4 linked regions of the Homo sapiens genome follow. The protein of the gene in region 4 purifies or fractionates together with the protein of the main gene of each other region. This does not show direct contact. Each region holds a gene or a part of one and is shown on either strand. Other genes may lie near its edges.

What was found.
Region 1: the proteins of CLK3 (region 4) and PSME3 purify together in Homo sapiens (affinity purification with mass spectrometry; 6 studies listed by BioGRID and IntAct, with this or other methods). This does not show direct contact.
Region 2: the proteins of CLK3 (region 4) and CDC37 purify together in Homo sapiens (affinity purification with mass spectrometry; 5 studies listed by BioGRID and IntAct, with this or other methods). This does not show direct contact.
Region 3: the proteins of CLK3 (region 4) and TNPO3 purify together in Homo sapiens (affinity purification with mass spectrometry; 5 studies listed by BioGRID and IntAct, with this or other methods). This does not show direct contact.

The regions. Positions count from the first base shown.
Region 1 is NC_000017.11:42,828,649-42,836,415, reverse strand, and holds the start of PSME3 (proteasome activator complex subunit 3), read right to left. Parts: upstream 3,020-7,767; 5' UTR 2,785-3,019; coding exon 2,743-2,784; exon of another isoform or gene 2,477-2,742; intron 2,323-2,476; exon of another isoform or gene 2,235-2,322; coding exon of another isoform or gene 2,160-2,234; intron 2,073-2,159; coding exon 2,040-2,072; intron 1,902-2,039; coding exon 1,839-1,901; intron 1,645-1,838; coding exon 1,540-1,644; intron 1-1,539. UniProt on the Homo sapiens protein: Subunit of the 11S REG-gamma (also called PA28-gamma) proteasome regulator, a doughnut-shaped homoheptamer which associates with the proteasome. 11S REG-gamma activates the trypsin-like catalytic subunit of the proteasome but inhibits the chymotrypsin-like and postglutamyl-preferring (PGPH) subunits.
Region 2 is NC_000019.10:10,400,543-10,408,111, forward strand, and holds the start of CDC37 (hsp90 co-chaperone Cdc37), read right to left. Parts: upstream 3,001-7,569; 5' UTR 2,938-3,000; coding exon 2,836-2,937; intron 1-2,835. UniProt on the Homo sapiens protein: Co-chaperone that binds to numerous kinases and promotes their interaction with the Hsp90 complex, resulting in stabilization and promotion of their activity. Inhibits HSP90AA1 ATPase activity.
Region 3 is NC_000007.14:129,045,101-129,052,120, forward strand, and holds part of TNPO3 (transportin-3), read right to left. Parts: intron 1-7,020. UniProt on the Homo sapiens protein: Importin, which transports target proteins into the nucleus. Specifically mediates the nuclear import of splicing factor serine/arginine (SR) proteins, such as RBM4, SFRS1 and SFRS2, by recognizing phosphorylated SR domains.
Region 4 is NC_000015.10:74,618,818-74,625,837, reverse strand, and holds part of CLK3 (dual specificity protein kinase CLK3), read right to left. Parts: intron 6,642-7,020; coding exon 6,490-6,641; intron 5,830-6,489; coding exon 5,613-5,829; intron 3,719-5,612; coding exon 3,622-3,718; intron 3,345-3,621; coding exon 3,278-3,344; intron 937-3,277; coding exon 820-936; intron 37-819; coding exon 1-36. UniProt on the Homo sapiens protein: Dual specificity kinase acting on both serine/threonine and tyrosine-containing substrates. Phosphorylates serine- and arginine-rich (SR) proteins of the spliceosomal complex.

The sequences.
Region 1 (7,767 bases), on a different chromosome or scaffold from region 4:
TGGTTCCACAAAGGAACACATTATTCAGTTAACAAACATGTATTCAGCAATTGCTAGGGACCAGGATCAACACTAGGTGCTGGGAATACAAAGATTAAGATAGCTCCTGCCGGCCGAGCACGATGGCTCATGGCTGTAATCCCAGCACTTTGGGAGGCTGAGGCGGGCGGATCACCTGAGGTCAGGAGTTCGAGACCAGTCTGGACAACATGGTGAAACCCTGTCTCCACTAAAAATAAAAAAATTGGCTGGGCGTGGTGGTGTGCACCTGTAATCTCAGCTACGTGGGAGGCTGAGGTGGGAGAATCACTTGAACCCGGGAGGCGGAGGTTACAGTAAGCTGAGATCGCGCCACTGCACCCAGCCTAGGCAACAGAGTGAGACTCTGTCTCAAGGAAAAAAAAAAAAAAAAAAAGATAGTTCCTGCCTTCCAGATGTACAAGTTCAACAATGAGGCAGTACTACAGACAACAATACGGTATCATCAGTGTTATAGTAGCATGTGGACACATGACTGATAAGGACTAGGTGTTAGAGATGCAAAGCAAAGATAGCAATTGCAGTTACATAGCGAGAACTGCATATCCCATAACACTACTCAAGACATGCAAACAAATATAAGCAAAGTCTTGTTCAGAGCCATGGGAAAAACCAGGTAACCTGATGAAGCTAGTTCTCTTTTTTTTTTTTTGAGACAGAGTCTCGCTCTGTCGCCCAGGCTGGAGTACAGTGGCGCAATCTCAGCTCACTGCAAGCTCCGCCTCCTGGGTTCATGCCATTCTCCTGCCTCAGCCTCCGAAGTAGCTGGGACTACAGGGGCCCACAACCACACCCAGTTAATTTTTTGTATTTTCAGTAGAGACAGGGTTTCACGGTGTTAGCCAGGATGGTCTTGATCTCCTGACCTCATGATCCGTCCACGTCGGCCTCCCAAAGTGCTGGGATTACAGGCGTGAGCCAAGGTGCCTGGCCTAAGCTAGTTCTCTTTTATTTGAAACTCACTCTAACACTGACAGTAGCATTAGCACATTCACTTCACGTCGTAAATGAAACTGAGGGTCTAAAAGGAATATACTGGAGTCCCCGTGCAGTGACTCACGCCTGTAATCCCAGCACTTTGGGACGCTGAGGCGGGTGGATTACTTGAGCTCAGGAGTTTGAGACCGGCCTGGGCAACATGGTGAAACCCCATCTCTACAAAAAATACAAAAATCAGTGGGCATGGTGGTGGACTCCTGTAGTCCCAGCTACCTGCGAGGCTGAGGAGGAAGGATCGCTTGAGTTCGGGAGGTCAAGGCTGCAGTGAGCAGCATTCCCGCCACTACACTCCAGCTTGGGCAAAAAAAGTGACACCCTTTCTCAAAAATAAATAAATAAATAAGAAATAAAAGAACTATACTAGAGTCATCATGTCTGTAACAGAGTCCTAGTTCCCAGATCCAAATCCCACTGTTCCCTCTGTACATCTTAAACTGACAAGGAAACAGAGGACAGAGGACCTACTGCTCAAGAACACAAAGATAAATATAGGACACTTACACCATCCAGTCCATCATGGCTATTGGTGAGAAGAATGGGGTCAGGGACTGGGAGATTCATGTCAGAGTGGATCTGAGTTAGGTCATGGATGTTTAAGATTGGTTCCTGAAAGACACCCACCCCAAAACATTAATCTTTTCAAGCTGAACAAAGAAGTATTTGATTTGAAGAGCAAGAAATGAAAGTGCTTTTACAGTTTAAAAAAATAAAAAGAAGAAGAATCAACAGTTTATCCCAGTTGACAGTAATACCAGGGCCAAAAAAATTGGGGAATTTGAGGAAAGAATAGGGTCTCTCACCTTCAGAAAACTATCAAGTTCTAATAACTTCTTTGGGAAAAAATTTGCCACCAAGTCTTCTGCCTAAGGAAGAGGGAAAATACAGCTGAATTAATATCTGTGGGAAGGTCTCTCTCTCTCTCTCTCTCTCTCTCTCTCTCCAGGTATCTCCTCTTTGGGAAATTCTCAACCAACAACCATTTTTCTATTTATTTCACTCACCTCACTTGTGATCCGCTCCCTGAAAGAATCAACCTAAAATTAACAAAGAGAGCAATTCAGTACCTGGGGACAGAGGTAAGAGCAGGATGGAGAATCCCAATCCAACTGTCTTTCCCTCACCTTGTAACTGTAATAAGAAGCTGAGAGGCCCCCAGACTGCAAATACTTTATTTTTTTGAGGATCCATTTTTCCATCTCAGAAGAACGCAGGGCTTTGAGGACAGCACCTGCCTGTCTCCTCTGTCCTCCCCCTTCCCTCCCTTCCTCCTGTGTCTGAAGCTGTCTGAATTTGATAAGCAGACAAAAGACAGGTAGTTAGGGAAGATGTGAGCTCACAAACGTGCCAACCCCCACCCAGACCTAGTCTATGATACTAGGCAGGCCAGCCGCCAAGGGCAGGGGCAGTGTCCAGGGACGTTGTTGGGCTGGGGGATTACCAGCTGTCACGGGCCTAAAGCCCTGAGTCCAACACGTGTCCGCGGAGGTGTCCCCGGGACTCTCCATCATCAGACGCGGTACAGAAAGCCATCCTATATTTTCCTCTCCCGCGAAGCCGACCCCGGGAGTTGGGGGCTGGGCTGAGCCGAGCGGAAGCTCAGAGCTGGTATCCCCAGGGAGACAAAGACGCCATGGGGAGTAGGAAGCCGGTCAGACTGCTGGGGGATCAAAGCGAGGGGCAAAAAGGCCGGACCGGTGCCGCTACCTTGAGCTTCACTTCCTGATCCACCTTCAGCAACGAGGCCATGGCCGGGCCGGGCCGTGTCCGATCCTCTGGACACCGGAGGCGCTGTGGACTCCAGGGAGGGGGCCGGAGGGACCTGAGAAATCTCGGCTGACCTCGGGACCCGACCGCCCTTGCTGGCTTACTCACTGCTCGCTCGCTCCCTCCCTCTGTGCCGTCCGCCCGCCCGCCGGCAGCCTGCTGCCTGCTTGCTCTCTCGCTCGCCCTCCCGGCTTTCGCCGCTCACGCCGGAAACTGCGTCACAGCCAATCGCCGAGACTCCTGCGAGGCTGTGCACGTGCGCTGCGCAGCCGCGATGAGGCATGGCTTTGGACGCTCCCAGCGGGGTTCACACTGCCGGGGTCAAGTGTCGGGTAGGGGTAAAGTAAAAAGGAGAGCTGTGGGGAATGGTGCGCTGAGAACTGAGCCTCCGAGAGACTCGGAAACGGTGCGGCCCTCTCTGTTGTCCCGGAACTCGCCTTCACCGAAGGGACCTTCTCAGCCGCTGCACTCCCGGGGACAACGCCGTCGCGCCCCAGTGACGTAGGCTCGGGGAAGTCGGGGACCCGGGTACTGGGTTCGGGGGTGTAGTCCCTGATTCCCGCTGCCTCTGCCCGTTTGCCGAGGCTCAAGTGTTTAGGCTAGAGCGAAAAAGACAAGCGCCGTTGTACCAAGCTTTCCTGGTACATTTCCCTGCCAACTGATTCTCGTAAGCTTCCAGACCTCAAAGATCAACTACCTAATTGGCAAATTGATCCCCAGAGTAGGGTAGGGCTTGTCCAAGGCGTTTCCAGTACATCCTGAGCCAGAACCCAGATCTCCTAACTTCTACGGCAGTGCTGTATCTATTTGCCTAGTGGAAGCATGAGACTATACCTCTTCATGCACCCATTCATTCGATCTCTCTCTCTCGACATTGGATATATCATTCAATAAAATGGGGCAGGGCACTGTGTCAGATTCTAGAAATATGTGAGTCACATATGTAGGTTGAAATCTTCTAGTAGCCACAATTAAAAAGTAAAACAAGTGAAAATTTTAGTCATACATTTAACCCAGTTTATACAAGTATTTCAACATGTAATCAACATTTAAAAATCGAGATCTTATGCATTCTTTTCTCATACCAAGTCTTCAAAATCCAGTGCGTATTTTACACTTAACTGCACATCTCAATAAGGCAACACCACATTTGTAGTACAGTGCTCAGTAGCCACATGTGGCTGCTGGCTTCTGTATTGAAGAGCACAGCTCTGGGAAATCAAAGGCAAACAAGATTCAAGGTCGCTGGTCCCATGGGGCATAATATTGGAAAAACACCAGAAAGTAAACTGACAAGGTAACTGCAAAATTTGATAAATGTTAGGGAAAAAGTGGATGACATAGAAAATACGAGAGATCTATTTTAGATCGAATGGCCAAGGAAGGCCTCTGAACAGGCAAGCTGTGATCTAAAGGATATAAAGAGGTTAGCATGGAAAGAGTGAGAAGAGCCTTGAGAGGTATAAGGGCAGCTCAGGCAAATGCTCTAGGGAAGGAAAGAGATTGTCTTGAAGACAAAGACTAGTGAGCTGAGGGTGAGGAGGGTTGTTAGTAAACAATCTAGATTAAGTGCAAAAGGAGGTCATCAGATTTGTATTTTGGGGTCGCTCTTGCTGTTGAACATTTATCCTAGGCTGGCCTCTCTACTAAGTGCTAGGAAAATGAGGGGAATACACAATTAAATGGAGTAAAGCACAGAAGACTGACTATGGCCTTTGGGATCAGAGACCTGGGCTTCAAATCCCACCTCAGCTCCTTACTAACTGGAATCTTGGGCAAATTATTGAAATGCTGAGTCTCGATTCCCTCATCTGTAAGATGGAATTTTAATAATTAGTAATAAATAATAGTATGTAATTTTGTAGTGTTGTGAATATTAGAAATAATATATGTAAAACAATTAGCACAGTGCTTAGACACAAAATAAATAGTAGCCACTGTCAGGTAAGTAAGTGATCTGTTAATGCTTAGCATGAAGAGGTTACTCCTTAAATTACAGTAATTATTTCCATTCCTGCTTTCAAGCTCAAAGTCCTTTTCAGCTTATAGAAGGCCACATATAACATCATGCTCTATCAGTTTTCCCCCTTTTACATGTTTTCTGTTAACACATTTCCCTGGGAACTTTTGAGATCCGATTTGAAACTTCAGGAATTATTTCCCACATTTACTCCATTCTATTTTAAGTATGCCACTATTCTTATTCCAGTCAGAATTTATAACATCAACTGGAAAAGCTAATATGTTTGTGCCTGTTAAAATATGCTTTGTTCTCAAATAATTATGTTTTGTCTCCTTCAAGTAGGTTATAAGACAGATACACATTCTCTTTATTTCCCTTCCTCCTCCCCATCCAAGTGTTTAATATAATACTCCATTCATTTGTTTATTCAGTGAACAACTGGAGAGTACCACTACACTTAACAATAACTATTCATTTCTGGGTGCTTACAAGTCACATGTGATCACTGATGACTGGTCTAATTTTAAATTCATGTCCCAAAATCTCAAATGAGTGCACAACACTGCCTGAGCTCCTACTACATGCTCCTGACAAGTTTGCTCTCCCACCCTCCCAATGACTATCATACTTTCTCATCTCCCTGAACCTCCAGTATTCCTTCTCTCCCACCTCCAACTTATGGCCTGGGCTCATTCTTTATTGAGAAAACAGAAGCAGATGAGAACTACCTCATCATCTCACCACCAAATCTGCCAATCTGCAAAATACTTTCTGCCTTTCCTCTTTCATTGAAGGAAACAAACCTGTTCCTATCTCTTCCTTTTGTGCTTTGGATTCCATCCCCTTTGACTTTCTCAATCCCATGTCTGTGCCCATGATTAGCCCCTCTTTTTCCTACATCACATCCTCTGCTGGGTCATTTCCAGACATAACCAATATCCCCTATCTTGAGAAAACTCCCCCCCGAATCCAGATTCCTCTGTAGCTGTTACTCCCTTTCTGTGCTCTCCTTCCTGGCAAGACTTCTTGAATTATTTATTGTCTCTTACTCTACTTCCTCATGCCCCATTTACTCCAATCCACTCTAATCAGACTTCTCAACCCCACTTTCTCACTGATATAATTTTTGTTAGGTTACCAATGACTACCATGTTGACACCAGTGGTCACCTCTCATCTTATTTGAATCTCTCAGTAGTACTCAATATATTAGCCACTCCCCTTCTTAAAATACACACAGCAACCTGTTCTGATCTTTCTCCAGCCTCAACAGTGATTCCCCATTTCCTTTGCTGGCTCTTCCTCCTCTGCTCCACTTCTTAATGGTGGCATGCTTCAGGAGACTTAGGTCCTTTATTCTCTGCTTACACTTTCTCCCTAAGAGGATCTATGCATGTTCGGCCAGGCGCGGTGGCTCACGCCTGTAATCCCAGCACTTTGGGAGGCCGAGGCGGGTGGATCACGAGGTCAGGAGATAGAGACCATCCTGGCTAACACGGTGAAACCCCGTCTCTACCAAAAATACAAAAAATTAGCCGGGCGTGGTGGCGGGCGCCTGTAGTCCCAGCTACTCAGGAGGCTGAGGCAGGAGAATGGCGTGAACCTGGGAGGCAGAGCTTGCAGTGAGCTGAGATCGCGCCACTGCACTCCAGCCTGGGCGACAGAGCGAGACTCCGTCTCAAAAAAAAAAAAAAAAAAAAGAGGATCTATGCATGTTCATAGCTTTAAGTATCATCTGTATTCGGCCAGACACGCACGGGGGCTAATGCCTGTAATCCCAGCACTTTGAGAGGCCAAGGCAGGCAGATCACCTGAGGTTGGGAGTTCGAGACTAGCCTGAACATGGAGAAACCCCGTCTCTACTAAAAATACAAAATTAGCTGGGCGTGGTGGTACATGCCTGTAATCCCAGCTACTCGGGAGGCTGAGGCAGGAGAATCACTTGAACTGGGGAGGTGGAGGTTGCGGTGAGCCGAGATCGCGCCATTGCACTCCAGCCTGGGCAACAAGAGCGAAACTCCATCTCAAAAAAAAAAAAAAAAAAAAAAATCTGTATGCTGATTTGAGGGCCCCAGATTCGTATCTCCCATCTGACATCTTCACTGAGTTCTAACCATCTATTTGATGTTTCTACTTGGAAACCTAATGAGCATATCAAACTTAACATGGCCAAACCAGAATTCTTGATTCTCCCACACACCTGTTATTTTCCTATTCTTCTCCATCTCAGTAATTGACATAACTGTCCACCTAGTTGTTCAAACCAAAAACCTAACAGTCAACCTTGATTCCTCTCTTTTCCTCGTCTCTCCACATTCAACCCATCAGCAGGTCCTGTCAGCTTTCCCTGTATAATGCATCCTGTATGAGTGTGCTTTCCTCCATCTCTTGTTACCCTGGCCAAAGCCACTGTCATCCTTTGCTAGGACTATTACAATAGGCTCCTATCTGGTCTCTCCATTTCCACTCTTGCCACCCCCCACCAACTGTCACATTCTGTTCTTCACTCAGCACCAAAATTTATCATTGATTGATTGACTGACTGAGACAGGGTCTTGCTATGTTGTCCAAGTTGGTCTCGAACTCCTGGCTCAAGTGATCCTCCCGCCTCAGCCTCCTGAGGAGCTGGGATTACAGGTGCACACCAGGCCAGCTCAAAATAATCTGCTAATATGTCAGCCACAGAGATGGTAGCATCTACTCAAGCTGAATATACCTAAAGAGAGAGAGAGAAAGAGAAAGAGAGAGAGAGAGATCCCAGAAACCTCAACTCTAGGGACCCACCCAAGAGAAATGCATAAATATATTCACCAAAAGACATGAACAAGAATGTTCATAGCAACACTATTCACAATAGACCAAACTGGAAACTACCCAGATGCCTCTTAACAGCAAGAGAGATATCTATATTTTAATATAGTCACACAATGGAATACTACAAAGTATTGAGAATGTATGAACTAAAACTACACAAGGTGGGTGAATCTCATGATGAGCGAAAGG
Region 2 (7,569 bases), on a different chromosome or scaffold from region 4:
TACAAAAATCAACCAGGCATGGTGGTGTGTACCTGTGGTCCCAGCTACTCAGGAGGCAGAAGTAGGAGGATCACTTGAGCCCGGAAGGTGGAAGTTGCAGTGAGCTGAGATGGCGCCACTGCCATCTCAGGGTGACAAAGCAAGGCCCTGTCTCGAAAAAAAAAAGAGAGAGACAAGGTCTTGCTATGTTGCTCAGGCTGGACTTGAACTTCTGGGCTCAAATGATCCTTCTGCCTCAGTCTCCTGAGTAGCTAGGACTATAGGCATGTGCCACCACATGTGGCTACAGATTTTTTTTTTTTTAACCATGAACAGAAATTATTTAAATGATGATGATGATAATAGCCACTGCCCCAAAAGGATTACAAATATTAAATGAATAAGGTAAGCCTTACAACAACCTTATGGGGTGGACATCATTCAGATTCTCAGGTAGGGAAACTGAGGCACAGAGCGATCAAACAGCTCCCTGGCAGTCACGCAGCACGTGAGTGATACAGACAGAGCTGAGATTTGAACCTAGTCAGGCCTGTGCTCTGAACGACAGCAATCTCTCCTTCCCCTCCACAATGCTTCCTTCCAAACCTGCCCCAAGTTTTCCTGACCCAGTCTTAATTCATTCTTACAAAGGTCTCAGGGAGGTGGGGCCATATTATCCCAGGTTTCACATGGGCTCAGGGAGGCTTCTTGTGAGTCTTGCCACATCAAAGAAAGAAAGAAGCAGCAAGAGGTGGGGCTAGGATTGGAACCCAAGCTTGCCTGTCCTTGAACCTGTGCTGGAGACGCTGAAGCCCCCTGCCTCCCTTACATGCCACTACAACCACCGGGGTTCTCAGCGGCAGGACAGGAAAAGCTCTGTGCCAGAGGGAGGAGGGTGTGGCAGGTACACTACGCTGCAGGAGGGGGGCCCTCCCACCCGGCAGGACCAAACCATTCTCCACAGTAGTAAAGATTAACCTCTTTATGTGACAGAAATAGGTCTTCCCAAGAATAGTCTTTGGAGCTTTGAGGAAGTCTTAAATATTTCATAATAAAATGTTACACACGGCAAGAAATAGAAGCGCTAGAACTTTCTTCCCACACTCCAGTGGCTTGCTTGGCAGGTACACTACCCAGGAGACTCAGGATTTAAGGAATAGGTCTGGAAGTGGGACTGGGAGCTAGATGAAGAGACTAATGCCGTATTCCAGAGTATTCTGGAAGGATGGGAAAGGGACCTTCTAGTTGTTTCTGGATAAATGATGGGGAATTGCCCTATGGGAGGGTGGGGTAAGAGATCCTCACTAGAAGGTTCTGAGAGGTATATGCCCTTCGTTTAAGAGCACAACATGGCTGGGTGCGGTGGCTCACGCCTGTAATCCCAGCACTTTGGGAGGCCGAGGTGGGTGGATCAACTGAGGTCGGAAGTTCAAGACCAGCCTGACCAACATGGAGAAACCCTGTCTCTACCAAAAATACAAAATTAGCCAGGCATGGTGGTGCATCATGCCTGTAATCCCAGCTACTCAGGAGGCTGAGGCAGGAGAATCACTTGAACCCGGGAGGCAGAGGTTGCAGTGAGCCAAGATTGTGCCACTGCACTCCAGCCTGGGCGACAAGAAGGAAACTTCGTCTCAAAAAAAAAAAAAAAAAAAAAAAAAGGAATACAACAGACACTGGTATGTAATGCAGGCACACTCATTTGGGGTAGCAGGAGGTTAAACCTTTAAGTCTTAGTCATCCCATTGGCTCGTGAGCACTGAGAGGGTGGTGGGACATGGATCACCCAGGCTTGGGATTCTGGGGTCTGGATTCGGGACCTCTGTTGTGGTCAGATAGAAGAAGGGGTGGTGAATTTAGAATCAGACCAGGAGAGTCCCTGGATAAGAGCAGGGACAATTTGGGTCACAGAGTAGCTAACAGGCTGGGGACAAAAGGTGGGGTGGGTTTGGGGTTCTGGGCTTGAGTTAGGGGAGAGTTTCCAATGCTGGCTGAGGCTCATACAGGAAGCCAGTCTGGGAAGTGGGTGGTGACAGGGTCTGCAATACCAAGTAGGAGCAGGGGCTCTGGCTAGGCCGGAAGCCACGTGGGCAGGATTTCCTGGTATAATGGGAAATGGGTCTACCGGAGGCCAAAGGAGAGGCTGGAATGTGAGGCTCTATCGGGTTGGAGCTGGTAGTTAGATCCAGAGGGGAACCAGATTCCAAAACCCAAGTACTCGGTGAGACTAAGGATCCTGAAGGGGGACGGTTCTACACTCTAGGAAGGGGGTCCTGGGTGTGGGCAGGGACAGGAATATCAGAGTAGCACAGAGTTCCTTGTTCCGTTTAGAAAAGGAGTGGCGACTCCGGATCTGAATGGGAACCCCGGATCAAGATCCCGGAAAGTAGATCCCGGGACAGACCAAAGTATTGGGGGTCCAGACTACGGAGGTGGGGGGGCGATGGGAGATCCCAGATAGGAAGTGAATACCCGAATAGGATGAGGGATCATCTAGAAGAATTTGGGGTCCAAACTTTGAGGCAGAGTTCTGGGTATAAATGTTAACTGCCGAACAGAATTAGGGAGAACCCCCAAGACTCGTCTAGGGGACTCCAGACTATGAAGAAGTTCTAGGGGGTGAATAGGGAATCCCACGCAAAAATCGGAGCAGGGAGTGGGGGAGCGGAGATCCAGGGCAGGGACTCAGGGTCCCAATGGTACTGGGGTCCCGGAGTTGAATCGAAGCTCCTGAAAATCCAGACTGGGGGGGTGAGAATCCTAGGTGTGAACAGCGGGGTCCCTGGGCAGTATCGGGGATCACAACTCCGAAGCGGGGTCCGGGAGTGGGGAAAGGGATGGGCGCGCGCGCCTTACCTGATGCCGCCAGCGGAAGAGACTGGCCGTGTCGATGTTGGGGTGCGTCTCGTCTTCATCATCAGACACCTCAATGTGGTCCCACACGCTGTAGTCCACCATCTTGCCTTGGCGGCCCAGCCCGCTCCGGCTCGGGTGGCGGCGACGGCGGCAGCAGTGGAGACTAGGAGCGCGGAGCCCCGCCCCTTCCGCTTCCGCCGAGCGCGGGAAACCCCGCCCTGTGTGACGTCACATCCCTAGTAACCGCGGCAGCGGCACTAGCTACCCAGCCAGCCTTAAAGGGCCCTGCGTAAGTGTTCCGGCCCCCTGGAGTTCCCGCAGAGACTCCGCGTCATCGGGCGCTGGGGCTCCGCTAGGTCTCCTGGGGGCATATGAGTGCGCGCTTCAACTCCGAGCCCCCCTCATCTCCCGCCGCTCCACGGTGGGCGTTTGGGGTGGCAGGGAGGGGACGGTTGATGAGACTGAGAGGACTGTCCCCTCAGCCACGCCGCAGTGACGTCTGCAAGGGGTAGGGACACGGCGGGAAGGCCCTCCCCCTGCCCTTCGTAAACGGGGACCTAAGCCTGCGCTGGAGAGGGGCGCCTGATGACTCCTCGGACTTTCTCAGCCCGAGGAGGACTGGACCTGCCCTGGGGGTGTCTAAATCGGGGGTGGTATGGCCCTCCCCTTGCAGGGTTAAACGTGGAGGGGAGACTGTGGCCCTGCCTTGGGAGCTGGGGTTTCCCCGCCTCGGCAACAGCCTTCTCCTTGTCTTCCACCTCCTGCCATTCGCAGCGAGGACTCGCGCGAGCGCGCGCGCGCACACACACACACACACACACACACACGCACACACACACACACACACACTTTGGAATCACCCGGACCCCCTCAAAACGGGTCTCGGCTCCCCACCCCGCTGGCCGCTGGGTGTCGCTAGAGTCTAGCCCACGGCGCGTATTCCTGGCCCCGCGCTTGGTGGGGGGAATCGTGGAGGGGTGGAAGGGGGCTTTCCTTGTCGTCACAGTCTGGGGCCACGCATAGCCCCTCCCCGTTCGTCTTGGGGTACGCTTCCTCCGCCGGGGCTCTAAGGACTCCATTACTCTAAGCATGCAGGGCCTCGACCACCTCACACTTCCATGCATCCCAATCCACGCTTTGATACCAGGATAATAGGCCGTGTTGCAGCCTTGGGCCAGGATTATCTCAGATTAAAGGGTGCTCCCTCGGGGGTCAGGCTGGATAGGAGGAGCTCCAGCCACTCCGGTGAGGGGCGCCTCTTCCTAGTCTCCCCTGGAGCCGACGTTGGAGGCAGTGCCTGGAGAGAGCGAGCGAAGTTCTCCAGAAGGGGGAGGATTCCCCGGTGCATGGAGCGGGAAGGGCCATCGGACAAAAACGTCCTCCCGCTGCCGCCCTTCCCCCTCGCGCTTCATTCAAACCCGCGAGTGGGCGGGCAGGGGCGGGGGAGTCCCCATCTCCTACCCCTCCCTCTTCCCCTCCACCCTGGCAGTCCAGCACATCAGTGGCCGTCACGGCCCGGGCACGCGCGCGCACGGACCCACACCCCGGCGGCTCTCACAATCGCACACACACATACACACACACACCAGCAAACAAAGGGTCTGGACACCCCCGTCCCCTCCCGCCCCCCAGGCCAGGGAGGGCGGGGCATCCCCTCCCCAGGCCCCCCGCAAGGTAAGCTTGGGGCTGCGAGCTGCGGTGGGGAGGGGGACACGGTGCCACAGTGGGAGGGGGCCAGGAAGGTAGGGGGTTCCCCGGCTCCCCAGGAAAGTCGTACCCCCACCCCCACCGTATGCCCTTTAGGGATTCGGCCCCGTCATCAGCCTGGGGGTGTTTGGAGAGAATCCCAGATGTCGGGGATTCCCGGATAGGCGCGGGGGTCTCTTCCTGGCTCTGGAGACTGGAGCTGCCCAGCTTCAGCAAAACAGGGTTCCCGGAGCCTCAGCTTCCAGAACTGGGGATAGAGCGCCGGAAGCTTCCCCATCAACCCCAAGCATTTCCTAATCTGCCAGCACAGCACCTCCAGCCCTGGGGACTGAGGAGAGAGACCCCTAAGTTGCTTTGCACTGTCCCTCTGTCCCCGGTCCCCATCCCACCCCCATCGGTGCAAACCCTGCTATGTCTCTCCTGCCTGTGTGTGTGTGTGGGGGGGAGGTTTGCGGGAATTGGGAACGCTTTTTGGGGCTACCTTTGCTTCTTCTGCTACATCCCATAGCCACATACCACTGAGCTGCGGTGGGGCCCGGCAGGCGGCTTTGCCTTCCTGAGTCTCAATTTCCTCCTCTGCAAAGTGGGTAATGACACACACCTAGGATTCCGCGAAATCGTGCTCGCGGAGCCTGCTTTTGCGCCATCATTTTATTTATTAGCTCATTTCACATCTCTTTCCCAAGTGTCTACTTACGATGTACTGGGCACTGTGACCAGGCTTTGGGGCAGCAGCAACCAACAAACCCAGTAGGGGTCCCTGCTCCTGGCTAGTGAGGGAGCAGGATCCCTGTATAAACATACAAATCCCCGCGGGTGATTTCAGACTGTGAAGACTAAAATTCTGTCCTCGGACAGAGAGAGACTAGGGAAAGGCACTCAAGATTAAAGGAGAAGCTGGGCACAGTGGCTCACGCCTGTAATCCTAGCACTTTGGGAGGCCGAGGCAGGCGGATCACTTGAGGTCAGGAGTTCGAGACCAGCCTGGCCAACATGGTGAAACCCCATGTCTACTAAAAATACAAAAATTAGTCGGGCGTGGTGGCAGGCGCCTGTAATCCCAGCTACCCGGGAGGCTGAGGCAGAAGAATTGCTTAAACCCGGGAGGCGGTGGTTGCAGTGAGCCAAGATCACACCACTGCACTCCAGTTTGGGTGACAGAGCAAGACTCTGTCAGAAAAAAAAACAAAAAACAAAAAACAGATTAAGTAAGACTTCTGGATCCTGCCTGCCTTCCTCCTTGGGTCTGAGCTCATGAGGGCAGGATCAGGTCTAGAACAGTGCCTGGCACACAGTAGGTGCTCAATAAATGTTGAATGAGCGTGGCACCCTGGTGTGAGCCTGTAGTCCCAGCTACTCGGGAGGCTGGCTGGAGGATCCCAGCGACACCCATCTCTAAAAAAAAATAAAAACAAAAAATAAATCCTTAGCTGGGCATGGTGGCACACGCCTGTAGTCCCAGCTATTCAGGATGCTGAGGCAGGAGAATGGCTTGAACCCGGGAGGCAGAGGTTGCAGTGAGCTGAGATAGTGCCATTGCACTCCAGCCTGGGTGACAAGAGCAAAACTCAAAAAAAAGAAAATCTTAAATGAATTAAAGAGGGGATTAGTTTAAGACTAGATTCTAGAACTGTAGATTAGGAAGAAGGCTTAGCATAAACCAATCCACCCCACTCCCTTGAATTTGATACAGGAGACAGTGAATCCCAGAATGTCAACATTTCTACAAAATTGAAGATGGGCCCAGCACGATGGCTCACATCTGTAATCCCGATAATTGGGAGGCTGAGGTGGGAGGATCACTTGAGCCCAGGAGGTCGAGGCTGTAGTGAGCCATGATCACGTCACTGCACTTCAGCCTGGGAGACAGAGTGAGACTCTGCCTCACCAAAAAAAAAAAAAAAAAAAAAAAAGAAGGTGGTTAAAGCAAGGGTTGTGAACAGCTGTGGACAGAGACCAGAACTGAGCACTGTGTGCCCAGGAACTCATGGTGTCCAGCCAGTGCCCACTCTTCCCCACATAGCATATAGACACAGCACTGCTTTCATCTATTCAATATTTATTCAGCACCTACTATGTACCAGGTGCCAGGGACACAGCAATTAACAGAACAAAACTCCCTGCCCCAGTGGAGCTGACATTTAGTGGAGGAAACTGAAATGAAATAACATGATCAAAAAGATATAATGACACATTGTTATTAGGATACTGATAGAAATAGAGGGTGTGGCTGGGTGTTTAGAAAGACTTCCTGCAGAAGCTGAATTCAGCACACACACACTCAAACCCAAACATAATCCCACTAATACACATCACAGAAAAGTGGCCATGGGGACTGAGTGGCTGAGCAGAGATTTAAACCTGGAACCTGCATTTCTTTTTTCTTTCTCCTTTTTTTAACTAATTAATTTATTTATTATACTTTAAGTTCTGGGATACATGTACAGAACGTGCAGGTTTGTTACACAGGTATACACGTGCCATGGTGGTTTGCTGCACCCATCAACCTGTCATCTACATTAGGTATTTCTCCTAATGTTATACCTCCCCTAGCCCCCCACCCCCCAACAGGCCCCAGTGTGTGATGTTCCCCTCCTGGTGTCCATGTATTCTCATTGTTCAGCTCCCACCTATGAGTGAGAACATGCGGTGTTTGGTTTTCTGTTCTTGTGTTAGTTTGCTGAGAATGATGGTTTCCAGCTTCATCTATGTCCCTGCAAAGGACATGAACTCTTTTTCCTTCCTTCCTTCCTTCCTTCCTTCCTTCCTTCCTTCCTTCCTTTCTTTCTTTCTTTCTTTAATTGAGACAGAGTCTCACTCTGTCACGCCCAGGCTAGAATGCAGTGGCTCGATCTTGGCTAACTGCAACCTCTGCCTCCCGGATTCAAGTGATTCTCCTGCCTCAGTCTCCCGAGTAGCTGGGATTACAGGCACGCGCCACCACACCCAGCGAATTTTTTGTATTCTTAGTAGAGATGGGGTTTCACCATATTGGCTAGGCTGGTTGAAAACTCCCAACCTCAGGTG
Region 3 (7,020 bases), on a different chromosome or scaffold from region 4:
AAAAGGCTAAATACTGTATGATTCCACTTACATGAGGTACCAAGAATAGTCACATTCATAGAGACAGAAAGTAGAATGGTGGTTGCCAGGGATTGGGGCGGGGAGCAAATGGGCACCTATTTTGTTTAGTGGGCATAGATTTAGTTTTACAAGATGAAAAAGTTTTGAAGATGGATGATGGTGATGGTTGCACAACAATGTCAATGTATGTAATACCACTGAACTGCACACTTAAAAATGGTTAAAATGACTGGGCACGGTAGCTCATGCCTGTAATCCCAGCTACTTGGGAGGCTGAGGAGGCAAGATAGCTTGAGCCTGGGAGTTTAAGGCTGCAGTGAGCTATGATCGCACCACTGCACTCCAACCTGGGCAACAGAACAAGACCCTGTCTCAGAAAAAAAAAAAACGTTAAAATGCTAAATTTATGTTTTGAATGTTTTGCCACAAAAAAAAAAAAATCTATAAAACCTACTTTCCATTTCCTCCATAAACATCAGTGCAATCAATCACTGTAAAAGAATGCTGAAGAAATATCTGAAAAACTTTGGAAAAACTATTGTAATTAGAAAATATAGTAGTACCCTGATAATTTTACATCCTAAATCAAACTATCAACTTTGGCCCAAGGCCTGGCAAGACAAGAAACTAATCAAAATATGGAGAAATGCCACCACATAACAGACTACCATGGCAACAGAAATACTGTCACAAAATCACAAACATAGACTCCAATACTTCAAAGACATGAAATGTTCTATATTTGTACCGTACAGTACTTGGAATGTGGGTAAGTGCAAATAAGAAACTGATTTTAGGCCGGGCGCAGTGGCTCATGCCTGTAATCCCAGCACTCTGGGAGGCTGAGGTGGGTGGATCACGAGATCAGGAGATTGAGACCATTCTGGCTAACACAGTGAAACCCCATCTCCACTAACAATACAAAAAATTAGCCAGGCATGGTGGCATGCACCTGTAATCCCAGTTACTCGGGAGCCTGAGGCAGAATTGCTTGAACCCGGGAGGTGGAGGTTGCAGTGAGCCAAGATTGCACCACTGCACTCCAGCCTGAGTGACAGAGTGAGACTCCGTCTCAAAAAAAAAAAAAAAAAAAAAAGAAACTGATTTTAACTTTTACTTAATTTTAAGTTTAAATAGTCACACTAGACTGGTGGCTACTACACTGGATGACACAGCTACATTGGTACACTCTCTGGGAGAAAGATCTTTGGTTTTCATTATTTACATACTCCCAGTTTCTATCAGTGCAAGGCACAGAGTATTCCTAGACTGAACTCATCTACTGAAGTTGTATAGGAATATTTTCTATTTTCTAGAAGGCTTTCCTTTCAAAAGCATGTTTTGACTGGAAGGTGCAAGCATAAGCACACACAAAAAATGCCTAAACTTTCAAGATAAATCAGTAATGACCAGAGAAAAGCCAAAAACCCTAGGTTTTATAACCAGGCTAAAGAATCAATAAATTCCAAAAAGGAAAAGTACTAGCAAAGAAGTTTGAAGCTGATATTCCATGACCCATGTATTAATGTGTTCTCACACTGCTAATAAAGACATACCCAAGCCTGGGTAATTTATAAAGGAAAGGGGTTTAACTGACTCAGTTTCACATAGCTGGGGAGGCTTCACAATTATGGCGGAAGACGAAGGAAGAGCAAAGCGACGTCTTACATGGCGGCAGGCAAGAGAGAGCTTGTGGAGGGGAACTCACATTTATAAAACCATCAGAACTTGTGAGACTTATTCACTACCACAAGAACAGTATGAGGGAACCCCCCATCATGATTCAATTACCTCTACCTGGCCCCACCTTGCCACAAATCGGGGGGTATTATTACAAGGTGAGATGTGGGTGGGGACATAGCCAAACCATATCAACCCAAGACCTTTCTGATATGATATCTAAGAAGAAAATTCCTATGGACATGTGATAAACCAAACATGACAATGCCAACTTAGTCTATCAAAGCATGACTTTACTTCATCTGCTTTGTGCTTTTGATGCTTTCCATCAAAAAGCTGCATACACCCATGCTGAAGCATGCCTATTCAGTTTCCATACTGAACTATAAAACTTTTGAGGTAATATCTAACCCAAAGATTGTCTCTGTAAAAGTTATCTCCTACTTACAACTTAAATTAAAAACTTATAACTGAGTCGCTTAAGTAATTGGCCCTATGAAGAGATGGTCTTTCCTTCAATAGCTCTCTACAACTTCTACTAATTTTGGTTAGTAGGGGTGGACAAATGAAACTACTAAATATACAGGACAGGCTACTAAGATTCCTTTAAGATCTGCCTCAAAATACTCTCTTTCAGAACACTTTGAAGTTATCAGTGATATCTATCTATCACATAAAACAACCATGGCTGTACATCTCCAAAAATTTTGGTGGAAGTTTAGAGCAATGAATACAGATTCTTCAGAAAATGGCTGTTTTATACAAATATTAGAGAAAGAGAAAAGATGCTAACTCACAGTACAGGCTAAAGCATATTCAAATTATACCTCTATACCACGTCTACTGTCACCAGGTCATTCGAACTATACTCAATTACTCTCGGATTAGTTAGGTGGGGTGGTAGAGAAGAATAAGGATAATAGTTTCACAAATACATATTCTTGAAAGTAGTTTTTTAGCAAACCACACAAATTCTATGCCTTACCAATTTCAAATGGATGTTAAAACACTATAGTTATTACTACAGTTAAAACACGCTTTTGTTCCAGTAGACAAAATCTTCCGGAAAGAAAAAAACCACCACACACATTACTTTTGGTTACAAATGCCATTTAGTGACCACTTAAAGAGAGCCTTGGCCAGGCACAGTGACTCATGTCTGTAATCCTAGCACTTTGGGAGTCTGAGGTGAGAGAAGTGCTTGAGCCCAGGGGCTTGAGACCAGCCTGGGCAACATGGCAAGACCCTGACTCTACAAAAAATACAAAACATTAGCCAGGTATGGTGGTGCATGCCTGTAGTCCCAGCTGTCCAAGAGGCTGAGGTGGGAAGATCACCTGAACCCAGGCTCAGGTGAGCAAGGCTGCAGTGAGCAGTAATCACACCTCTGCGCTCCACAGCCTGGGTAACAGAGTGAGACCCTGTCTCAAAAAACTAAATAAATAGACCAGGTGCAGTGGCTCACACCTCTAATCCCAGCACTTTGGGAGGCCAAGGCGGCCAGATCACTTAAGGCCAGGAGTTTGAGACAAACCTGGCCAACATGGCAAAACCCCAATCTCTACTAAAAATACAAAAATTAGCCGGGCATGGTGGCATGTGCCTGTAGTCCCAGCTACTTGGGAGGCTGAGGCAAGAGAATTGCTTGAACCCAGGAGGCGGAGGTTGCAGTGAGCCAAGATGGTGCCACTGCACTCCGGCCTGGGCAACAGAGTGAGACTCTGTCTCAAAAAATAAATAAACAAAGAGAGCCTTATTGAGTCAAAAAGTTCCTCTCCCTTTCTGTACCTGAATATTTGCAAGTATGAAATGAGGGCAACATATACATCTCATAAAGGATTTAAAAAAAAAAAAGAAAGAAAAAAAAAGACTGGAAAGACTGAAGAGCATTAAAGGTGCTGAATATTGTTTATTTTTAACCATGTATATGGTGAAAAGTGACAGCAAAAATAAATAAAACTCGCAGATAAAGAAAAATGTGAGTTATCCAACTGAGTATCTGCATGTATGCACTTCTGACAATCAACATTTTTAAGAACCTGTGTGTGAAGTGTCTTGATTGTTTATCTTAATAACCATGGTTTATTTCTTCAACTATGGGTATTGGACTACATAAACAAATGTGACAAGAATCCCAGTCTAGTAGGGGAGGCAAAACACTTATTTTCAAAAAGGTTTATAAAAAGGCAAACACAATGAAGTAAAGTTCTCTAGGCATTCATTGGGGGCTGAAATCACTTTTGGCTGAAGAGAAGCAGGTAAGCCTTGAAGGAGAAAGCAGAATTTAGGTTGGGCTTTCAAAAGATGAGTTAGTTTCTGCATTTGAAGAAAGGGTTGGGAAAGGGTAAAAGCAGAGAAGAAAGTAAAGTTGGGCAAAGGCGGCATCCACTCTACCCCAAAATATTTGTGTACTATGAGAAATATTTCAGCTATTTGGATGCTGATGGGAAAGACTCAGTAAAGGAGTCTAAAGATGCAGACAAGACATAGGATAAACCAAAAGATCAAGGTCCCAGAAATTTCAGAAGATTGAGAGATGCAAAGCACCTAGATCTGACAAGAGGAGAAGCAGCTGCATACAACCATGCTGAAGTCTGACCAAATTGGAGGGGAAAGGTGATGGTGTATTTATAAAATGACTAGAATGATAGATCTTGGAATCCACATTTGGTAAGGAGAGAAGTAAAAACAAGAAGACCTAATAAAGAAGAAGTAAGGAACAGTCAATGAACTGAGGTTTTGATAAAATTCAAGAACTAATGCAGGGACTTCTGTTTAAAATGACTAAACTAACTGATTGAACACAGCTGTCTGCTTTCAGGTCCTTCCAAAAATCCAATAAAAATCAGAGTAAAGATCTTTTTTAAAAAAGGCAAAAACACATAAAGACAAAGAAAATGGAAACAGGTGACAGATATCAATAGAACTGTGGAAACTGGAAAGCTAAAGGACAGTGTTAACTGTCTTAGCAGATCCGAAAAGGCTGATATTTGCCTGGGGGTGGGGAGGGAGGATGAGACGAGAATAGGGAAGGCAAGGGACAAACTATTCATGTTGCAAAACCCAGGAAGACTGGGGAATTGGAAGCACAGGTACATCTGAAGGCAGATGCACAGGCGGAACAAAAAATAAAGGAGTGGAGCTGGATGTGGTGGTGTGCACCTGTAATTTCAGCTACTCAGGAGACTGAGGAGAGAGGATTGCCTGAGACCAAGAGTTCGGGTCCAACCTGGGCAATATAGCGAGACCCCAACTTTTCTTTTCTTTTTTTTCTTTTTTTAAAAAGGGTGAGGTGGGGTGGGCTGGGCGCAGTCACTCATGCCTGTAATCCCAGCACTTTGGGAGGCCAAGGTGGGCAGATCACAAGGTCAGGAGACCGAGACCATCCTGGCTAACATGGTGAAACCTTGTCTCTACTAAAAAATACAAAAAATTAGCTGGGCATGGTGGCAAGCACCTGTAGTCCCAGCTACTCTGGAGGCTGAGGCAGGAGAATGGCGTGAACCCGGGAGGCGGAGCTTGCAGTGAGCTGAGATGGCGCCACTGCACTCCAGCCTGGGAGACAGCGAGACTCTGTCTCAAAAAAAAAAAAAAAAAAAAGGGTGGGGGGGGAATCGGCTAGTAATGCAGCCTTAAAACAAAAAAAGAAAAAAGTTTAAATAAATAAAAGGGTCAAAATCTGTGTAAGAAGCAGTAGACTCCTAAATTTCCTCTCTGACTCTGAGCAACCAGGCTACTACTCTCCCACCATAACAGAAGACTCAAGGTTTACTGTGGAAAGATTGAAGTAGGTGGTCTCTGGACTCTTAGACAACAGACTCAGCTAAAGACAGGAGTATCATGCTGAAAAACAAGAGATTAAATTAAAACCTACATACTTAGTTGTGAGATCCATCCCCTGGCTTCATTCCCTGAACTGGCTTTAGAACACTGGCAGTCTAGCTTATAACCCCCAGGCTGACTAGAGAACTCAAGGTAAAAGCAGCCCAAGAAAAACAGACCAACAGAAAAGCAATGAGAGAAAGGATGAAGGTTCCCTTCTCGATGATCCATTAAATGGAAGAGTAACCCAAGAAAACATCATGGAATCCAAGAATCAGTGGATCCAGCACAACAAAGAGGCAAAGGGAATTCCCTAGGACAGTGTTTATGGAATCCCATGACAGTAATTATCCAACAGACCTAGCGAACCAGGCCAGACTGGAGCAGGGAAATGGAGGGCTCTTGGGATACATATTTCCTTTAGCCAAAAAAGAAAACAAATCACCAGTCTGAACAATGAGGATATTTACAGTACTGAGATTTGAGGGTGACTTATTGTGGATACCCAGAAAACAAAATGTTAAAAAAAAAAAGAGGTATTTGATTACCAACAGGAAAAAAAAGGTTCCACAAAATTTTGTTTTAAAAATAAAACTTAAATATTAGTAAAACTACATAAAGATTTCAAAAAAAACTAGGTGACATTATTTGATATTTTTGAGCCAGCAAACTGGAAAACAGTGGGTTATGATCACAGCAGAATGTCTGAATCAGTGATTTGGAGGTGTGGTGACTTTTTTTTTTTTTTTGTACAATCTTGCTGTTTCCCAGGCTAGAGTGCAGTAGCGAAATCATAGCTCACTCAGTCTTGAACTCCTGGGCTCAAGGGATCCTCCTGAGTAGCTGGGACTATAGGCAAATGTCACCACACCCAACTAATTTTCCTATTTTTTTGTAGAAATGAGGTCTCGCTATGTTGCCCAGGCTGGTCTTGAACTCCTGGGCTCAAGGGATCCTCCACCTTGGACTCCCAAAGTGCTGGGATTACAGGCAAGAGCCAATGGGCCTGGCCTGGCTGGCAACTTTTTTGTTTTTTTTGAAATGGAGTCGCGCTCTGTCGCCCAGGCTGGAGTGCAGTGACACAATATCAGCTCACTGCAACCTCCACCTCCTGGGTTCAAGAGATTCTCCTGCCTCAGCCTCCTGAGTAGCAGAGACTACAGGTGCGCACCACCACGCCCAGCTAATTTTTGTATTTTTAGTAGAAACGGGTTTTCACCATGTTGGCCAGGCTGGTCTCAAACCCCTGACCTCAAGCGATCCGCCCGCCTCAGCCTCCCAAAGTGTTGGGATTACAGGCGTGAGCCACTGCACGCCCAGCCTGGGTGGTGGCTTTTTAGTAAAGACAAGATCCAGGGTGTGATTGTGTGACCAGGTGGCTAAAGAGAATGAAGAGGTAAAGGAATCAGAAGGCCAAAGTGTTAGCTGAACTGTCAATCCAGATGCTGAAGTTGCCTAAACGTGATGTGTTACTGCTGGATATTTTCCAGATCCACT
Region 4 (7,020 bases):
TGGAAGTTGAACCAGTCAGACATCAAGACACACAGGCTGGAGGAGGAGGATGGGCAGGGCTCAGGCTGTGTGCTGGGGGCCTGCCTCACCCCCTCTCTCAGATGAAGACAGTTCCCAACTCTCTCCTAGGCCACCGGGTCACACACCAGAATGCAGATACACACAGTGCAAGAGAAATCAGAGCAAGAGCACCTCTCCCCACCAGCCATCACCCAATACCCAGATGAGCTCTGGGCAAGGACTAAGCTTCCTGCGGGGGGTAGGGGAGATGTCCACGGTTCTGGTCCAAGCCCTCCGAGCTTCCCTACTTATGATATGGAAGCAGCCCTGCCTCAGAGTTGCTGAGGGAGAGATGGAAAGTGCTAGTGCACTCCGCAGGACTGGTGCTGCTTTTCTCCACTTGCTCACTCTGCTGAGCTTCGTGAGGGTCTGTGCTGGATTCACCCATCTGCCCAGGCTCAGCACAGTGCGTGGAGGAGAGTGCTCAGTGTGTCTGCCACAGAAAGGCCCTCCTTTGGGTATCTCCTACTATGTGAGAGCCCCAACTTCATGTTTTTATCTTGTTTTATGCCCAGCATAACCCAGTGAGCTCCCCAATTCACAAAACGCAGGGCTGGGAGGCCTTCCTCAGGACACAGAGACAGCTGGGGTGAAGACTGGACTGCAGTCTAAAGGCTTCCAGCAAGACCTTTGCCACACTCCCCTGGTTCTGAGTGTGGGGAGAAGGCACAGTGCGGATGGGTGAAGGCACACTACTAAGCCCCTGGGGGTCCAGCAGCCCCACTGAAGGCTTCCCTCCCACTCCTTGCAGATACTCACAACTTGTTTTCTTTGTCCTTCTCCTTGATTTTTTTGAGCACGTTGATTTCTAGCCGGGCAGCCTCCCGGTACTTGCCCACGTTGCGGATGATCTTCAGGGCAACCTGAGACTTCCCTCTGGTACCCGGGAAGGAAACAGAGGTTCTCATCAGCAGCTGCCCAGTCCTTCCCCAACCCTCCACCCCAACCCAGCAACTCCCAACAAACACCACTCCAGGAGCAGCCGGCACTGAAGAGAGCAGATACTGGATGCCCAGCCTGCCCCATGCAACACCAGACCTTTGCCCACCCAACAGCAAGCTCCCTGAGATCTGTGAGTTAATGCTCTTAGCATCCTTGCCATCCTTAGGCTTTTATGTTCTCAGCCACTGCCAGCTCCCAAAGGAGTGTGGGAGAGTAGAGGCCAATCCTGCTTAACCAGTGCCAGTCCAAGAGCTCACACAGTGACCTAACCTATAGGCCAGGCAGCCCCAACCCTGGCCAGGCTGTCCCACCGAGAACCCTCCTGCGGCGCCTCTTGACCTTCCTGAGCTTGTCTGCAAGTCTGAGCAAACAGGGATGGGGGTTCCAGGATCGAGTAAAGATCTGGCAAGAGGTAGGGGTACCAGCAAGGGTACCTCTCACTGTGAGGCCCAGGGCCACTCCCTTTACCACACCCCTCTCCAGCCGCACCTACCTGCCACAGTGTTTATCAGTGACCACAAAATGCCAGGAACCCTTCTTAAGTGTCCAAAGAAGGTTTTAACAGTCCCTGCTCTGTGCCTCCCACCCCCAACCTCACCCCAGGAGGCCATCTGCAGGGAGCCAGCAGAGAAGGAAACCTGCTGAGGCTCAACTGCCAGGCCCTGTCAGGAAAGGACAGCTAGAATTCAGATGCCCAGTGGGGAACGAGACAGTCCTAGCCTGGAAGGGCGTGTCCTCTGAGGCCTCAGGGAGGCTGACTGTGGTGCCTAAGGCTCACAGGCCCAGGATAAAGGGACCTTCTAGAGAATCCCCTGCTTTTTTCTCCCTACCTATTTTCCCAGATTCTCAGGGCAGGAAGGGACCTCAGGGGAAAGGCCATGCACTCCGGCCTCCTCCTAAAACAGGGTCCCTCCGTGGCATTCCAGTCCTCAGCACAGGGAGCTCATCACTTCCAAGGCAGCCCCTGTCAGAGTTGCACTGCTCTTAGAATAAGACCCTGCCTTTCGCTGAGCTGAATTCTGCCTCTGCATGACAACCCCCACTGGCCCTGGCTCCCTTTGAGTCCCGTAAAGTTTCCCTGGACCCTCCACCTGCCCCCTAGTGACTCCAGAGGCTCATTTTCCCTCCAGCTCCTGAGAGAGGAGCAGCCCAGAATGCCTACATGCATCCCGGCTGTTGAGTCTGCCATGTCTCCACCTGGCCACGGTGTGGTTGTGCATGTCCCTCCACCCACTGGTCCCAACCCTAACCTCTTGGGCCACGCTGAGTCGTACAGGCATTTACATAGGAACTTGGAGCAAATGGACACTTCCTCTCAGTCTATCTCGTGGCCACAGGAAAGGCTGGACGCCTGGGTCTGAATGACCTGAACACCCCATTTAATGTAGGAGCACTACAGCGCAGTGGTGGCCAGCTCTGCTGTTAACTGGAGTATGATGCAGGCAAACCCTGAGCATGTTTATTCATCTCTGAAATAGCGAGAGGGCCACATATGGGTGGCATGTGGCTCCAATGAGGACACAAGCACTTTGTAGCTGAAGTGCCAAACCAACTAGAGAGCCTATGGCAGGGTGGCAACTGGCTCCCTGGAGGTGGCCTCCCCAACCCAGACCTATAGGAGAGGAAGCAAATGTTCTAGTCTTGTGGAATGGTAAGGGGAAAAAACTATTGTACTGTTGGGCTTGGGAGAGAGTGAGGTGCAGCATGACACACACAGGTATACCCCACTCTCCCAGGCACACTCAGCGGAGACCACACACTACCCTAGTCACACTGAAGAAGGCAGCAGCCTGCTTGGTGAGAAAGCCCAGGGTCATGTTTCTCTCGACTGAGATCTGCACAGCCTCTCAGGCAGACCCTCAGGGAATGGGACTTATGCTTGGGCTGGGCTTATTGGTACTCCTAGCCCCTTGCTAAGCCAAGAACCTAAAAGTTATCACAGGAAGCAGCTCCAAGCCACAGGGGAGCCGGGGCCTTGGCCCTGTTCTGATATCCACCACCACAGCCCTGGAGAAGTGAAGAGATTGGAGCAGAACCTTTCACTGACCAACAATTCTTGGGTAGGGATGCCACATAACTGCAGGACCCAAGAATTTCTCCCTTATTACAGGGGGTCAGCAAAACCCCAACATGGACAGGTCGGAACCCTACTTTGATGCCACCCTTCAAAAAGAAAAAAGTTAAGCTCTGATAGCTGCCACCCTCAAGAACCTCAGGCCAGCTCTTCCCAGGAAGATCACATCCGGAGCCAGCTGTACTGCCGCAGCTCGCTCACCTGGCATGGTCCAAGCACTCCACCACCTTGCCAAAGGTGCCTTCACCCAGGTTCCCCACAATCTCATCTAGGAGAGAAAAGAAATTGGGCATGAGAATCTGGAGGGCAGGGGGTTGGCAGCTCCTGCAAGTTCACAGCATTCAAATTCTCAAAAACAAAAAAGGTTTCTCTCTCACTGCTACACTCTTAAAAATGGAAGTTGCTAGTGTCTGTGTCATTCAGGCAATTACTGGTGGCCCCGCTAAGGCACCACGCGCACTAGAGGCCCCTCCAGGCAGGAGAGGTCTCGTCTAACAAGGGGGGTAGAAAGTAGAGAGGTAAAGTTTTACGAAAGGTGGCTGTACATCGCTCTTGGAGCCAATCGCCGATCCGGCACACCAGGTGACCCTCCTTGTCATCTTCCACACTCCGGCTGCTGCGCTTACTGCTCTGTTGGCTTCTCTGCATGCACCGCCCCCCGAAACGCCATCCGACCAATCGCATGGTAGGCGGTTCCGATTGACAGATTGAGGTGTCAGTCAAAGGCAGAGGTGGAGACGGTGAGGAGCCGGTGGGTTGGTTGGTTGGATTTTCCAGATCCCAGCATTTCATAAGGCACACAGCATATATAACGATAGGGATATTGCAAGGGACACGTCAAGACACAAACTGACTTCAAAAACAGAAAAGTAAAAACAGCTACAGGTATGTAAAGAAAACTCGGACATTATCTTTAAGAGGAGCGCCACAAACGCTCAGGAAGATGACCTGCCTCTGCTGCTGAGGGCCACGCTGTGAGGAGAGCCATCGCCCCGACTCCCTCCTCCTCCTCCTCCGAGTCTCTCCCTCCCAGACCCTCCCATGTGGCTTTGGGCCAGAGCGGAAGATGCAGTGAGAACGGCGGCGCAAGAAGGCAGCTGGCCCCGCCTGGGTCCAACCATCCAGACTGGTCAGCGGCTGCTCCGGCTTCAGCTGCAGAATGCCCAGCCTGTCCTTGCCTGCCTCTGTTCGCCCACGCAGACTTGCACATGCCTGACAGCTGCCACTCACAGCCAAGCTGCTACCTGCCTCCAGACGGCATCCTTGGCCAGATTTCACCATCACTACCAGAAACAGCCTTCCGTCAGCAGCCCTCCTGCCACCAGCCTCAAGAAGGAAAGCAGCCTGGGATCCTCTGGGCCAGTCGACTGCCAGGCTTCCTACCACAATGGCCCACACAGGCCCCATGCCAGCTCCTGCCCTGGCCTTGGCACCCATGCTGCTCACAATCTAGGCCCATCCCAAGCCTCACGACGATCGATAGAGGGCACCAAACAGAGAAACAGAGCCAGACCTGCACTGCCATCCTGTGGCAGCATGTGGCAGTGTGCAAAGAGGTGAAAGGGCCACGCTGCAATCGCCCGCACAGTCAACCCTCAACCTGTAGCCACTCAAAGAAGTCACAGAAAGCGCTGGGCAGAGAAGACACCTGGCCTCTCCACTGCTCCTCAGGGGCCTCAAGGCCGGCAGGAGGGAGGCAGGGAAGAGGGATGGGGGAGAAGAGAAGACCGCACGTAACCTCGGAAATACACAACTGGCTTTGCTTCCCCAGGGGACTGAGCGCAATGTGGGCTCCAGAGACCTTACAACCCTCCATGCTAGGAATACTGGCCAGGCCCTGCTCTGGGCATGTGGCCTGCAACTGGACGAGGCCTGGGGCGGCAGCCTTTCTGCCATTTCTTCACATGCCCCATCACACAGGCACCTGCCCCTCCTCACCGCGACTGCCCCTCGTAAAGAGGCTCGGCTGGAGAGGGCCTGGCTGGAGATCAGAAGGGAAGTTCCCAGTCTGAGCTGGCTGACAGGCAAATCCTCCGGTCCTGTGAGGCACTCCAGACTGGGGGCCTTTGGGAAGGGGTGTGCAGATGAGACGCAGAGGTGGGTGCAGTCCACATCAGAGCACTCAGTTACACGAGGAGGCAGTCTCTGGGTGGGAAGGACCAGGCCATATAGCTGCAGACCACCATACCAGCCACTCTACTAGGATCCCTAAGAAGTGTCCTAAGAAGTGTCCCCAGCCACTTGCACCACGTGGCCTTTGTCTGGAGCACTGTGTAGACATAGACAGGCCAGGGGCCAGCCAGCATCGGAGCCAGAGTTCCTACAGTTGCCACTGGAAAGAGCCAGAAGACACAGAGGCCAGGACCCTGTGATCAGCCCTACACCTGGACCAGACAACACATACACACACACATGCACGCACACCAGTGCACGTGCACAGGGCTGGCAGTACTCACCCGGACCAGCCAGCCTGAGAGAAGGCTAGGAAGAGATGAGGCCTTTAAGCCCCAGCCAGCACACTCTGGCTACCACTCACCGAGGAGGCGCTGCTACAAGACCTGGTGCGGCGTTTGTGGCAGTGGTGGGCATGCTTGCGGGTCCGGTATGGCCCCCTCTCCCGCGATCGCCGACGATGACGAGAACGTGAAGGTCCATAGTAGTCCTCTCCAAAGGATGGGCTCCGCTCTTCACACCGGTATGTATCGCTGTCACGGCGCTCCCGGTACCTCCTCTGGTAGGGCAGGCGGTCATGGCTGCCAAAAGGGGGATGGGGACGCTGGTCAGCTGGGTCCTTGCTGTTAGCAAGCAAGAGACCTGTGGTAAGGCCACTGTAAAGGGCTAAAGGGGGACAGCCTGTGCTAAAAGCATCCACACTGGTGGGAAGTGGGCAGAGAGGGGAGGGTGCAAAGGTACTAAGCCCGCCCTCCAGAGCCCTGTCCAACGACAGCATCCTCCAGCTGTAGGAGGAGGGGTACAGGGGAAGGGGAGTATGGTAGAGTGCCTCCAAGGGTTCTATACCCTTCCAGAGTTCCCTGTGGCCTGCTGCAACTCTAAGTTTGACCTGGGAGCTAAGATAGGCCCAGGGAGCAAACTTTCCAGGGGTGAGGTTATGTTCCTAATCCTCACCAAGGAAGGCTTAGGAGGTTAAGCGGAAAGATGCTGGCCTAGAAAATGGGGGAATGTGTGGGGAGAAGAAAAGGCACTCCAAGACAGAGAAAGAGTGGGCGGCAAGGATGGTAGCTACTGCTGAGGCCAAGGCATGCAGGTGAGGTTAGTGGAGGAGCCCAAAGAGGACAGGGCAGGGATCCAGGGACAGCTGGGCAGGGATGGAGTCATCTCAAGGAGTCTGGAGCTGCCACAGCTGAGCCCAGCTGACAGAAGGAGTCTTTCCCTCCTATCTAGTTCCCTCTCACCTTCTGGACCGAGATCTTCGTGGGGGAGGCTCCCTTCGGGACGGGTATCGCAGTCTCCCTTCATGTTCCCGACTGTAGGACCTCCTCCTCTTCCATCGGTAGCTCAGGTACGGGTCTGGTTCAGGGGAGCGGTATCGCTTACAGTGATGCATCTAGGCCACGAGGAACAGAGAGCCCTGCTAAACACACAGCCAGCCACCTCCAGCCATGGGGCTGCTGGGGCTTCCCGGTTGCTCCTGAAGAGGCCCATTGTTCTGTTTGAAGGCGGCCCCTCCCAGAGGTTTATGAAGTGAAGAAGAACTCTGAGGTCACACTGGTCAAACAGCAGACAATAGGAAACAACTTTCTCTGCCAGTGAACAAACAAACAGCTCCCAGCAGAGCATCACTAGCCTGGTGGCCTGGGTGCTCAGGGAACTGGGTGAGCCAGGGCCAGGGGCTGAGGCAGTAACCCTGGGTGGGGACGGTGAACACTACCACAGGGAGATCAAAGGCAGGAGAAAGGGGAGCCTCCTGCACTCTATTCCCTCCC